Homo sapiens: one gene and its partners. The protein of the gene in region 1 purifies or fractionates together with the protein of each later gene. This does not show direct contact. Each region holds a gene or a part of one and is shown in the gene's direction. Other genes may lie near its edges. The genes, in order: RAB6B, RABGGTA and MTMR1.

Evidence for each region.
Region 2: the proteins of RAB6B (region 1) and RABGGTA purify together in Homo sapiens (co-immunoprecipitation; 3 studies listed by BioGRID and IntAct, with this or other methods). This does not show direct contact.
Region 3: the proteins of RAB6B (region 1) and MTMR1 purify together in Homo sapiens (co-immunoprecipitation; 3 studies listed by BioGRID and IntAct, with this or other methods). This does not show direct contact.

What each region holds. Positions count from the first base shown.
Region 1 is NC_000003.12:133,840,250-133,843,896, reverse strand, and holds part of RAB6B (ras-related protein Rab-6B), read left to right. Parts: intron 1-2,233; coding exon 2,234-2,287; intron 2,288-2,506; coding exon 2,507-2,612; intron 2,613-3,647. UniProt on the Homo sapiens protein: The small GTPases Rab are key regulators of intracellular membrane trafficking, from the formation of transport vesicles to their fusion with membranes. Rabs cycle between active GTP-bound and inactive GDP-bound states.
Region 2 is NC_000014.9:24,265,034-24,268,740, reverse strand, and holds the end of RABGGTA (geranylgeranyl transferase type-2 subunit alpha), read left to right. Parts: coding exon 1-16; intron 17-121; coding exon 122-227; intron 228-320; coding exon 321-372; intron 373-542; coding exon 543-631; intron 632-782; coding exon 783-871; intron 872-964; coding exon 965-1,081; intron 1,082-1,851; coding exon 1,852-1,965; intron 1,966-2,223; coding exon 2,224-2,311; intron 2,312-2,977; coding exon 2,978-3,126; 3' UTR 3,127-3,203; downstream 3,204-3,707. UniProt on the Homo sapiens protein: Catalyzes the transfer of a geranylgeranyl moiety from geranylgeranyl diphosphate to both cysteines of Rab proteins with the C-terminal sequence -XXCC, -XCXC and -CCXX, such as RAB1A, RAB3A, RAB5A and RAB7A.
Region 3 is NC_000023.11:150,759,249-150,762,501, forward strand, and holds part of MTMR1 (phosphatidylinositol-3-phosphate phosphatase MTMR1), read left to right. Parts: intron 1-3,253. UniProt on the Homo sapiens protein: Lipid phosphatase that specifically dephosphorylates the D-3 position of phosphatidylinositol 3-phosphate, generating phosphatidylinositol. Could also dephosphorylate phosphatidylinositol 3,5-bisphosphate to produce phosphatidylinositol 5-phosphate.

The sequences.
Region 1 (3,647 bases):
CAGGGAGTCAGCCTTCGTTGATGTCATCGCTCCTCTGTCATCCTCATCTGGATGGGCCACTATGACTCATCCCCACCGGACAGTGGGAAAGGGAGCAGCTGTGGGTACTCCCTACCCACAGAGGACCTGACCCCAAAGATGCCTACATCACGTTCACATCCCATTAACCAGAATGTAGCCGCCCAGCTGCAAAGAAGGCTGGGAAATATGTTCTTTATTTGGGGCAGCCCTGAGTCCATCTGCACACCCAGAATTCTGTTACTATAGAAAGGGAAACTACATACTGGGGACAACCAGCAGTCCCTGCCACCAGTCCTAAGCTCATGCACCTGGTTTTAGTTCAAAGGTGACTCTACAAAAGGAGCATGTCACTCCTGGGGAGCCTGTTGAGCATTGAGGAGTTGAGAGACTTCTACCTGCTATGCACATTTCTCCATAAGGGAATCAGAAGACAAGGATTGTCAATCTAACATACACCTGTGAAGGAAAAAGTCTGCATCCACAAGCACTGGTCATTGCAGATTTGTGCCTCGGTGGCTACACTATGCGAAGCTGTGGTAGAAAGAGCCCAGGTGCTGCCAAGTTTGCAGCTCTGATCTTCCCAGCCCTGCTACTGATGAGTGAAGTCACACTAGGCATGTCCTTTAACCCTCTGGTCTGTTCTTTCATCTCCAAAGTAAGGGATTGATTGGATTGTATCTAAGGTGTTTTGTCTAGTGCCCACATTCTAGCATCGTATGCTCCAGAGCGTAGAATGACCCCCCATATCTTTGTGTTATGAGGCAAGCTTCCAGGAGGGTGCAAGCCAGTCTCAGTCCTTTGTGGAACGAGTTGGGAGTGTGACTGTGTAAACATGCACACTTGTGCACACACATTGGTGCATACCTTTGCATTCAGCCTGGGGGGACTGGAGATATGACCTTTTCTATTTTCTTGGGCTTCCTTTGGTTGTGTTTTTTGCAGTCAAAAATCATGGCATTCCACACAATTAAACTTATTTATTAAACTTTATTTCAAAGGACTTTTTCTAATTTTAGTACTGTTATATGTTCATTGTGGAAAGTAGAGAAAAGTGTAATGAAGGAGTGTAATGAAGGAAAGAAAATGCTCTGTCACTATTCAGACCGTGATGCTATTAACATGTTAGCAGATTCCCTTCACTTCAGTGTCTAAGAAAACATGAAAAATACTCATAGATCTATTTGAGTTAATCTAATTGGGATCACTCGCCACATGATGTTTTATAACCTGTTTTTTGTTTATTTGTTTTTTTAACTGGATAACCGTTTCCCCAAATCCTTAAATATTTTTTCAAGAATGTGATTGTTAACAGCTGCCAAGGGTTCTAATCACATGGATATACCACACTATGCTTATTTAGTGCCGTGGACATTCAGGCTGTGTCCAAGTCTTTGTTATTATTGATTACATAGCAGTGATATCTCCATTTTACATTGACAGCATCTCAGTCCTACTGACAGGTACCGGGTGCCTGTGAGGCCCAGAGAGGTTGGTTGCCTGCCCAAGGCCACACAGCAAGTGAGTGGTGGGTCCTGGCCATCTGGCCACAAGGCTGGCTGCCTCTCACAGGTGCCAGGGCAGAAGAGGCATAGGTGTGGCACAGGGGAGCTGGTGACAGCTTCCAATGTTTTGGCTTGGGGAGAAAAGAGCCAGTGGGGCCTCCCAGCGAGAGGCCACTCTGGGTGGTCTGCAGTGCCCGCACCTGAGAAAAGCCATGCTGCTGTTTGCACCCACACAGCAGCAAGCTGCCTGCTCCTGCCCCCTGCCTCCCACCCTCCCGAGGTCAGTGTTGAGCCCAGGCCCATGCTTTAGGGCAGAGGGAAGAGGCTTTGGAAGCTGCAGGTTAGGCCATGAAGGGAACAAGGCAGGGAGTCCAGGTGGGGAGGGCAGGATATGTGCGTTGAGTGGCCTGAGTGGCCTTGCTCCTGGGGAGGCCTCCTCACCACTGCGCTCTCACTGCTTCTGAAGCACTTGCCCTCTCCAGAGAAGATCTCACCCTATAAAGGCCACCCTCATCTTTCCTCAGCTTGATCCCTCAGTGAGAGAGCCGCTGAGTGGTAGCAGGGAGGGGCAGGGAGGACAGAGCATGGCCACATTAGACCTGACATGAGCGTCCCCTCTTGCTGGTTATGCCACCACCTGTGGTCGCTAGGCTTTTGCCCCTTTGCATGAGACCTTTTGATTTTGACCGTTCTGTGCTTTTCTCTAACAGGCAACCATTGGGATTGACTTCTTGTCAAAAACCATGTACTTGGAGGACCGCACGGTGAGCACCTAATATCAGGACTGGGAGGGGCAGGGAGGGTTCCTTTGGGCTTATCCCCTAGGACCCTTAGCTGGGCACCACTGAGAGCACCTGCCGACACTAGGGGCTGGAGCTGGTGATGCCAGCATTGCAGAGCCCGGCTCTCCCAGTCCCCCGGACCAGGAGGACCTCACTGCCCCACTGACCCCTCTGCCCATGGTCCTGCCCTCCCTGAGACAGGTGCGACTGCAGCTCTGGGACACAGCTGGTCAGGAGAGGTTCCGCAGCCTGATCCCCAGCTACATCCGGGACTCCACGGTGGCTGTGGTGGTGTACGACATCACAAGTGAGTGAGGCTCTGCTCCTAAGGGAGGGTGGCTCATAGGGGGTCCAGGGCCCAGGTGTGACCCTGGCCAGGCCTGTGTGCATGTGTGTGCACACGCATGTGTGTGCACACGCATGTGTGTGCGATTGCTCCCTGAATGCAGAAAGGCAGGGAGCAGTGGTGAGTTGCCTTTGAACACCAACATGGTTTCCACTGCTCCCCACCCTCCTGCAACCGACAGGGGTTTATAGGGCCAGGTTGGTCCTGCTCGGAGTGGAGGCCAGCTTGTGGTGTGAGCAGATGCTCACAAGGTTGGCCCTGCTCCAGCCTCTCTGCACCCTCCCTCTCCCTGGCTGTCAGAAAGCTCCCTAAGGAGCTACTTCTATATGTGTGTCACCATGGGAGAAGACGCTGGTCCCTAGGCCAACCCCGGCCCAGCAGCTGTGGGTGCAGGACTCCCTGGGAAGGTAGGCAAGGGGGTCTGGAAGCGCAGTAGGCTGGTAACCCTTCTCCAGTACTGTGGCTCTTCAGGCCAGGGCAGGTGTTCTTAACAGGACTGCACAGCCTCAAGGGCGCACAGGGCCAGAGGTGGGGGTGGGGGGCCGAGGCAGAGGCCAGACCTGCAAGGCTCTTGTAATGGAACACACCTGATAAGCCCTCAGGGCTGTGGTTACCCTGAAGTGGGCGAATGCCCTAGGTGCTGTCCACAGCCTTAAAAATCACACAAGGAAGCATGCATGTCCCCGCGCTGGTGCATGCCCCCGCCACCCAGCCTGCTGCCCTGGCTCTGCCCACCCCTTCTGTCCACCTCTCTTCTGACCACAGGCCCCCTCCACACCTGAGTGCAGGTGGGAGCTGGGCCCGCAAGGGCCTGGGTTCACATGGCCTGAGGCACATCAGAAGGGATACCAGGCTGTGTGAAACTGAGGCTTCTGAGGACAGCTACCTCCCCTCCCCTTGGGTGTGCAGGCTGCCGAGTGGTGGGTATTGCCTTATAGCTGCTCTGCCCTGCAAGGCCTATCATGGCAGCTGAGGGGGGTCAGGCTGCCCAGAAGT
Region 2 (3,707 bases), on another chromosome or scaffold:
GCCCAGCCATGTCTGGGTATCCCAGGATTGGTGGGGCAGAAGTTGGGGTCTGGGGCAGGGCTGGGTGGGACAGTCAAAAAAGTGGTTAGGCTGGGGCATTTCCTTGACCCAGTACTCCCAGCTCTGTGACCTGCCTGCTGCCTCCCTCAACGACCAGTTGCCCCAACATACATTTCGCGTCATTTGGACAGCAGGCGATGTCCAGAAAGAATGCGTGCTTTTAAAAGGTGATGGAACCTGCAGCCTCCACCCCTTGCAGCAGCCCCCATCACTCTTTTCCTCTCAAGGGTGCACCCTCCAACCACCTACTCTTTCCCCAGGCCGCCAGGAGGGCTGGTGCCGGGACTCCACGACAGACGAGCAGCTATTCAGGTGGTGATAGGGAAGCACAAAACAAGGAGAGGGGCTCTGGACTCTGGGCATCAGGCAGCCAGGGCAGGAGGCTGGGGCCTCAAGGAGCTGTTTCAGTCTAGATACTGGGAATGTTGACCAGTGCTTCAGGGCTGTGGGCCTCAACTCCTCCCCACCCTGCCCACCCTCAGGTGTGAGCTGTCAGTGGAGAAGTCCACAGTGCTGCAGTCTGAGCTGGAATCCTGTAAGGAGCTGCAGGAGCTGGAGCCTGAGAATAAATGTGAGGCCCCATTCCGTGAGAGTCTGCTCCCAGAGCCCGCTGAGGAAACCCCTTTCCAGTGTGGCCCTGAGAGGACAGCAGGAAGGCCTCAGGAGGATGGGAGCAGAGGAGGTTCCAAGAGAAACCCTCCTTTTCCCTGCCCTCTCCTCAGGGTGCCTGCTTACCATCATCCTGCTGATGCGGGCACTGGACCCCCTGCTGTATGAGAAGGAGACCCTGCAGTACTTCCAGACCCTCAAGGCAAGTTCTGTCTGCAGAACAGACCAGGGGGAGGCCCAGCAGGCAGGAGGCAGGCAGCTGACATGCATACCCTGCCCACCTCATCCACTCCAGGCCGTGGACCCCATGCGGGCAACGTATCTGGATGACCTGCGCAGCAAGTTCTTGCTGGAGAATAGCGTGCTCAAGATGGAGTATGCCGAGGTGCGTGTGCTGCACCTGGCTCACAAGGTATGGGCTGCCATGCATGCCTTCCCCTGGCCCTCATCCCGCTGGCCTCCCCACGTCCCTGACTTTGCCCCCAGTCTCAGGTGCCTTTGTGGACTTCCAATCAAGATAGAGTTCATCCCTGCCTCCCAGCTTGCTCCTCTTCCAGGCCTTTCTGTCACTCAGCCCATTCTTCTTCTTGCCACTCACTTTCAAATCCCGAGTCACCAGGACCTCCTTGTGCTGTTTCTTCCCCAGGCTGGTCACAGCTTCATCTTCCTTCAGAGTGACCGCTAGCCCACTCCTCCCACACATTCCAGCACATCTCACCCTGGAGCAACCTCCAATACCTGAAGGCCAAATACTTTCCAGAGATTCCTGAGAAGTTGTCCAGGCTCCACTTTCCTAGTCCTTCCCAACACATTAGTTTTATCACATCACCACAGCCCACCTCCATTCCTGCCAAACTCATCTCTGCCTCATCAGGACCAGTCCCCATGGGGGACCAGTCTTTGTTTACCCAGCACCCTCCACTGGCCCCTGTACCTCCGAACTCCAGGCCTCCTCCTCCTCACCCACCCCACTGGTTACCCCACTCGCAGCACTGTCTGTCCCACGTCATGTACTGCTGTGGGCTGTAAGGTCAGCTTCCCACATGCTCCCATCCTCTTCTTGGCTGGGGTCCCCAAGGGCCTGTGGGGCACAGAGGGCATGTGCCTAATAAATGCTGGCCGAGGACCCTCTCCCAGGTCTCCTGGGAAGCCCATCACCTCCTTCCTCCCTTCACCCCCCAGGATCTGACAGTGCTCTGCCATCTGGAACAGCTGCTCTTGGTCACCCATCTTGACTTGTCACACAATCGCCTCCGAACCCTGCCACCTGCACTGGCTGCCCTGCGCTGCCTTGAGGTAAAGTACCCATGTCTCCGTCCCTGTCACGGGTGGTTCTTTTCCTCTTCCTCTCCCTCAGAAGTCTGCCCATCCTACAAGGAGATGTGCAGGACCCTCCACCCCGAACAGGTAACTGCGTGCCTTCCACCTCCATCACGCAGCCTGACCCTGTGAGCCCCTCTGTGCTCTGTGGACCCGTCACCCTGAGCTCCTCAGTTGCTGAACCATCCCTGGCTGACAGCGCCTGTCCTGCCTCCCTGCCCTCCCTGCCCCCAGGTGCTGCAGGCCAGTGATAATGCCATAGAGTCCCTGGACGGCGTCACCAACCTACCCCGGCTGCAGGAGCTGCTACTGTGCAACAACCGTATCCTTCCTTCTGGGTGCCTTTCAGACAGTGGGTAAAGTGAGGTGCCACCCTGGGAAGGGACAGACAGCAGGCAGGGTATGTGCCACCCTCTTGCAGGGCAGGAGAGAGGGGGCTCTGTAGTGTGAGTTGAAGGGGGAGAGCCTGGGGCTGTCGGGCTATCACTGACCTGCACTGGTGGAGTTGTGCGGAGTGGACTTCCTCAAGTCAGAGTTCACAAATGGGCAGCCCGCAGCTGTTCTTCAGGTCTATGTAGTTTTTTGAAAATCAGGAACTTTCATACTTTAAAAAACATCTAGAGTTCTAATTCCTCTCTTAAAAATTGGAAGTTAGAGCAACCTTACACTGGTATTTTCACTCAGCAGCCCTTGGTCATTGCTGAATAGTAAATGTCTCTTTGGACCAGGCTAGATTTCCACCTTATCATACCCTGCACCACTCCCCTGATACTACACCAGCTTGCGTGGGGTGTTGCGGCTCATTCTTTCCTGGCTGACCCTGTGGGTAGGCATTTGCAGTCCCTGCCTAGAGCCTGACTCCCTCCAGGGAGCATATGAGATGCCCATCAAACAGACTTCCAGGCAGCAGTCCCCAGCTCTTGAGGGTACACAGGAGCAAATAAATTGGGAGGAACCTGCCAAGCTTTCCTTGACTCTCCTGAACAAGGCCTCCAGCAGCCTGCAGTGCTCCAGCCTCTTGCCTCCTGCCCCAGGCTGGTCCTCCTCAACCTGCAGGGTAACCCGCTGTGCCAAGCGGTGGGCATCTTGGAGCAACTGGCTGAACTGCTGCCTTCAGTTAGCAGCGTCCTCACCTAAGAGGCCCTGCCCCCTACCCTTGCCCTTTAACTTATTGGGACTGAATAAAGAATGGAGAGGCCCTCTCAGGCTACCAAGCTGTTGTCGCTGCTATCACTACACCACCACCTTCATCACTTTTATTTTTTGAAAAGAAAGGGAAGAGACATGGGGTGTTGCCAGCTCCTTCTTTCTGCGCCATCCTATTGTTTCCTCTCAGAGAGAGCCAAGGCTTCAGTGTTTGGGGCAGAATTCAGGGTGAAGGCTGAGCTTTTGTTTACCTTCTGGTTTGGGGTGGGGGCTGGGACTGGGTCTAGATTCCAAGCAGGAATAGGGCTTGGGCTCAGGTTCTGGCTCTGGTAAGCTACAGAGCAGCTGTGAGTTTCTCCAGCTGGAAGCATCATACAATTTTTTCCCATGACCCCTGCACCTTCCACATGTTCCCCCTGCCCTGGCCCCCATTCACCATAGCTGGGGAGGCTCAAGGGCTCCACGTTCCCAGGAATGGGCCAGGGTGTCCTTGCTCCGTCCTGCCTGAACAACACTATCGGTCCCCATGAGTAGCATTCTACGGTTGAAGTACCTTTGAGAATACTTGATAC
Region 3 (3,253 bases), on another chromosome or scaffold:
TACTTAGGCATCTTGCTGAGTTATTCTGTCCTGGGTGGCTTCTATTTCATCTATTTTGGCAACAGGGAAGATGGGCTACAGAGTGTCAGAAGTCACTATGTTACTGAAATCACATAGGGTTACCAGGTGATATTCTTGGTGACTCAAAGGCCCGGGTGGTTGGTGGAGTGTCATGAACATTAGCAGAAAATCCAACAGAACCATGCCTGATCTGGAGTGCCTTTGGCTAAACAGAGCCTCTCGATTACTGCAGGAGACCCCCGTACCCCTGCCACGCTCCCCCTTGTGCAGCAGGTTGCAGAGGTGAAGAAATGCTGAACCAGCAGAGAGGGTTAGAGTGGTGTCCCACAGGGGTGCACCCAGGCTCAGATTCTTGCCCGCCGCGTGAGGCAGGTAACAGACCTTTCCTAAAACCTACAAACTGCGCGACAGATCTGTTCCCAGATGTGGTCAGGTTCTCACTCATGTAGGCGAAGCCACCTGCAACATCATGATGATGATGGAAACCACAGCGACAGCGCCTATAACCTGCAGTCCTCTTGTGTGCCAGTGGGTTCTGTACACACATGATCCCAGTTAACGCTCCCAGCAATTCCACGACGTAGAGAATGAGGGAAGGGTCAGAGAAGCAGTGACTTGGTTGAAATCTTGCTGCCCAGTGCGTGTAGTTGTGGAAGGATGCCCCCGACAGGGCCAGATCCCGTCTCTGGCAGTGACTCACCGCCTGATCTGCAGCAGGGTCCTGAGCCTCACGGGGACCTCACAGGGGGTTGCTGAGCAGGAAGTGAATCCATTCCAAGTGCACTGTGCTCGGAGGGTAGTAGGTGTGTGGTCCTGCTTTTTGCATTCTCCCTCCATTGTGCTACACAGAAGAGAGAACCAAAAAAGAGTACATGGGCCGCAGCTTGTTATCCTGTATGCAACAGGCATGTGTCGGACACCTCCTAGGTGTGGGAATGGGGGTGGGGGAGTGCATTGAAGACAGGCAGAGATCAGTGGCTGGTGTGGGTGTCCAGTGACAGGGCCTGAGGAGCCAGGTGAGGCAGAGAGAAGGAGGAAGAGAGGGGAGGGGAGGGAGTGCAGGGGGGTAAACGACAGGGCAGATGCAAGCCTGTTGGGCCTCTTTTCTCTGAGAAGGCAGTGGCTCGATTGGCTGCCGAGAAAGGGGTTCTTTGGGCATCCATCAGAGGATGGCTGGGTGTGGAAGGCCCAGGGGCGTCCTATTTCCTTTGGGACTGTCTTGCCTTATGTCTTGTGATGCTAGTACCCATGCGGCAAACATGACTGGCCCTTAGATGGGAATTTTCTCTAACACAATCCTCTGTTTAAGCCTCCGAGTTTTCTATTCCTTCAGGCATGCCCTTGATTTGTTGCAAATGAAAATATGTGAGTAGGCCAGGCGCGGTGGCTCACGCCTGTAATCCCAGCAGTTTGGGAGGCCAAGGCGGGCAGATCACTTGAGATCAGGAGTTCGAGACTAGCCTGGCCAACATAGTGAAACCTCATCTCTATTAAAAATACAAAAATTAGCCAGACACAGTGGTGGCGGGCGCCTGTAATCCCAGCTGCTCAGGAGGCTGAGGCAGGAGAATCGCTTGAATTCGGGAGGCGGAGGTTGCAGTGAGCTGAGATCGTGCCGCTGCACTCCAGCCTGGGGGAGAGAGTGAGACTGCATTCCGCCTCAAAAAAAAAAAAAAAAAGAAAAAGAAAAGAAATAGGTGAGAAAAGATGCAAACAGCTGGTGAAGAGATGATAGTGGTGCGTTTGAGCAGTGCTGGGTCTGCCCTGGGTGTGTGTCAGTGGTGTATTTCCCTGCGTGTCTTGCTTCTTGCTGAGGTCACATGCCTGTAGATGGATAATGGGAACTTGATTGCAAGGCGTCCCTTGTCTGATCAGAATTAAATGATCCTACAGACAGGAAAACGCATGCCAGATGGGTCCTAAGGGTAAGAGAGGAGCTGGTGCCACCTCCCAGAGGCCTGTGGGATCTGCCTTTGCCATCACACTCCACTCCTGTCCCCTCTGTTCTTCCTGTGGCCTGCCCAAGGGGGTCATTTCTTCTCAGCCCACTGGGTGCTGGTTACTGAGCACCTTGTTATTAGAGGGACCTGGCTGCCCCCTTGCGGTCTCGCTCTCATCCTCCTTCCGTCTCCCCCTTCCCTCCAGGAGGGCTGATCACCATTGGCACACACGGTGGAACAGCTCAGTCTTTGAGGGAGTGGGGGAAGGACCTGGTGAAAGATGAGCCAGAGGGCCAGGCTGGGGCCAGACTGCAGAGGGCCTCGAGGCCCCTCTCAGGGCAGGGGGAAGAAGTCCCTGGAAGGTGTTAAGTGGCCAGTCACATGGCCTGGCTGAGGCTTAGGAGCCAGCCCTGTGGCTGCTGTTTACACATGGGATCAGAGACAAGGGAAGGCTAGGGAGCTCCCCAGACCCCACCCTGTTTCTCCCTCAGCCCAGTCGGTGACCCCTCACTCTGGTCAGCCTTGCCCCCAGCCAAAGAGCTCCAGGTGAGAAAAGCTGGGTCTCGGATGTCTGGCCTCCTAGTAGCTGCTGGGGACAGCTTGTTAGGCGAGTGGGTTGGGTGCTATGACTATAAAATAGCAGGACTGGATGTCCCATATGCCCCGGGAAAACCTTTCTTGTTTATATTCACCCCTGCCCCACAGTTGATGGGTTTAAAAGAGAAAAGCTAATTAAAGGTGAGGCCTTGCGGTGATGCTGAGCAAGGAGGGAGGGGTTGGTCCTTGGGGAGGCTCCCCACCCCCCTGCCGGCACTGCCCGCTCCGGGGGGCTTCTGGCAGATCCTGCTCCGGTTGATGAAAACACAGCTTCAAGTTGTAAAAAGTGCTGATTTAACAGAAGGATTTTCAGTCAGCAGAGCTATTTATAAAAATGCAAAAATACAGAGATAATGGAGATGCTGGAAAGGGGTCTGCGTGGAAACATTTCTGACGCACAGTCTTTAGGACACTGCTCGTGCCGAGTCTGCACACGGCGCCCTCGGTTGATCCATGGTGCGCAGTGTCCCCGTGCCTGCTTGTCTTCTGAGAAACTGTGGGAGCCTCCCCATGGTGCCTTTTCATCCCGGCTCAGCGGCTCGGCCCCCGGAGCTGCAGGGCGGCCTCAGTGGCAGCCAAAGCTCATGGGATGGGGTCCCATTGTCCACCTGACGCGAGATCGGTCAACGCCTCAGGAGACTTTGGCCGCTCCAGGAGTCTGGATGGTGAAAAGCTCCTGAAGCCAACAGCATCTC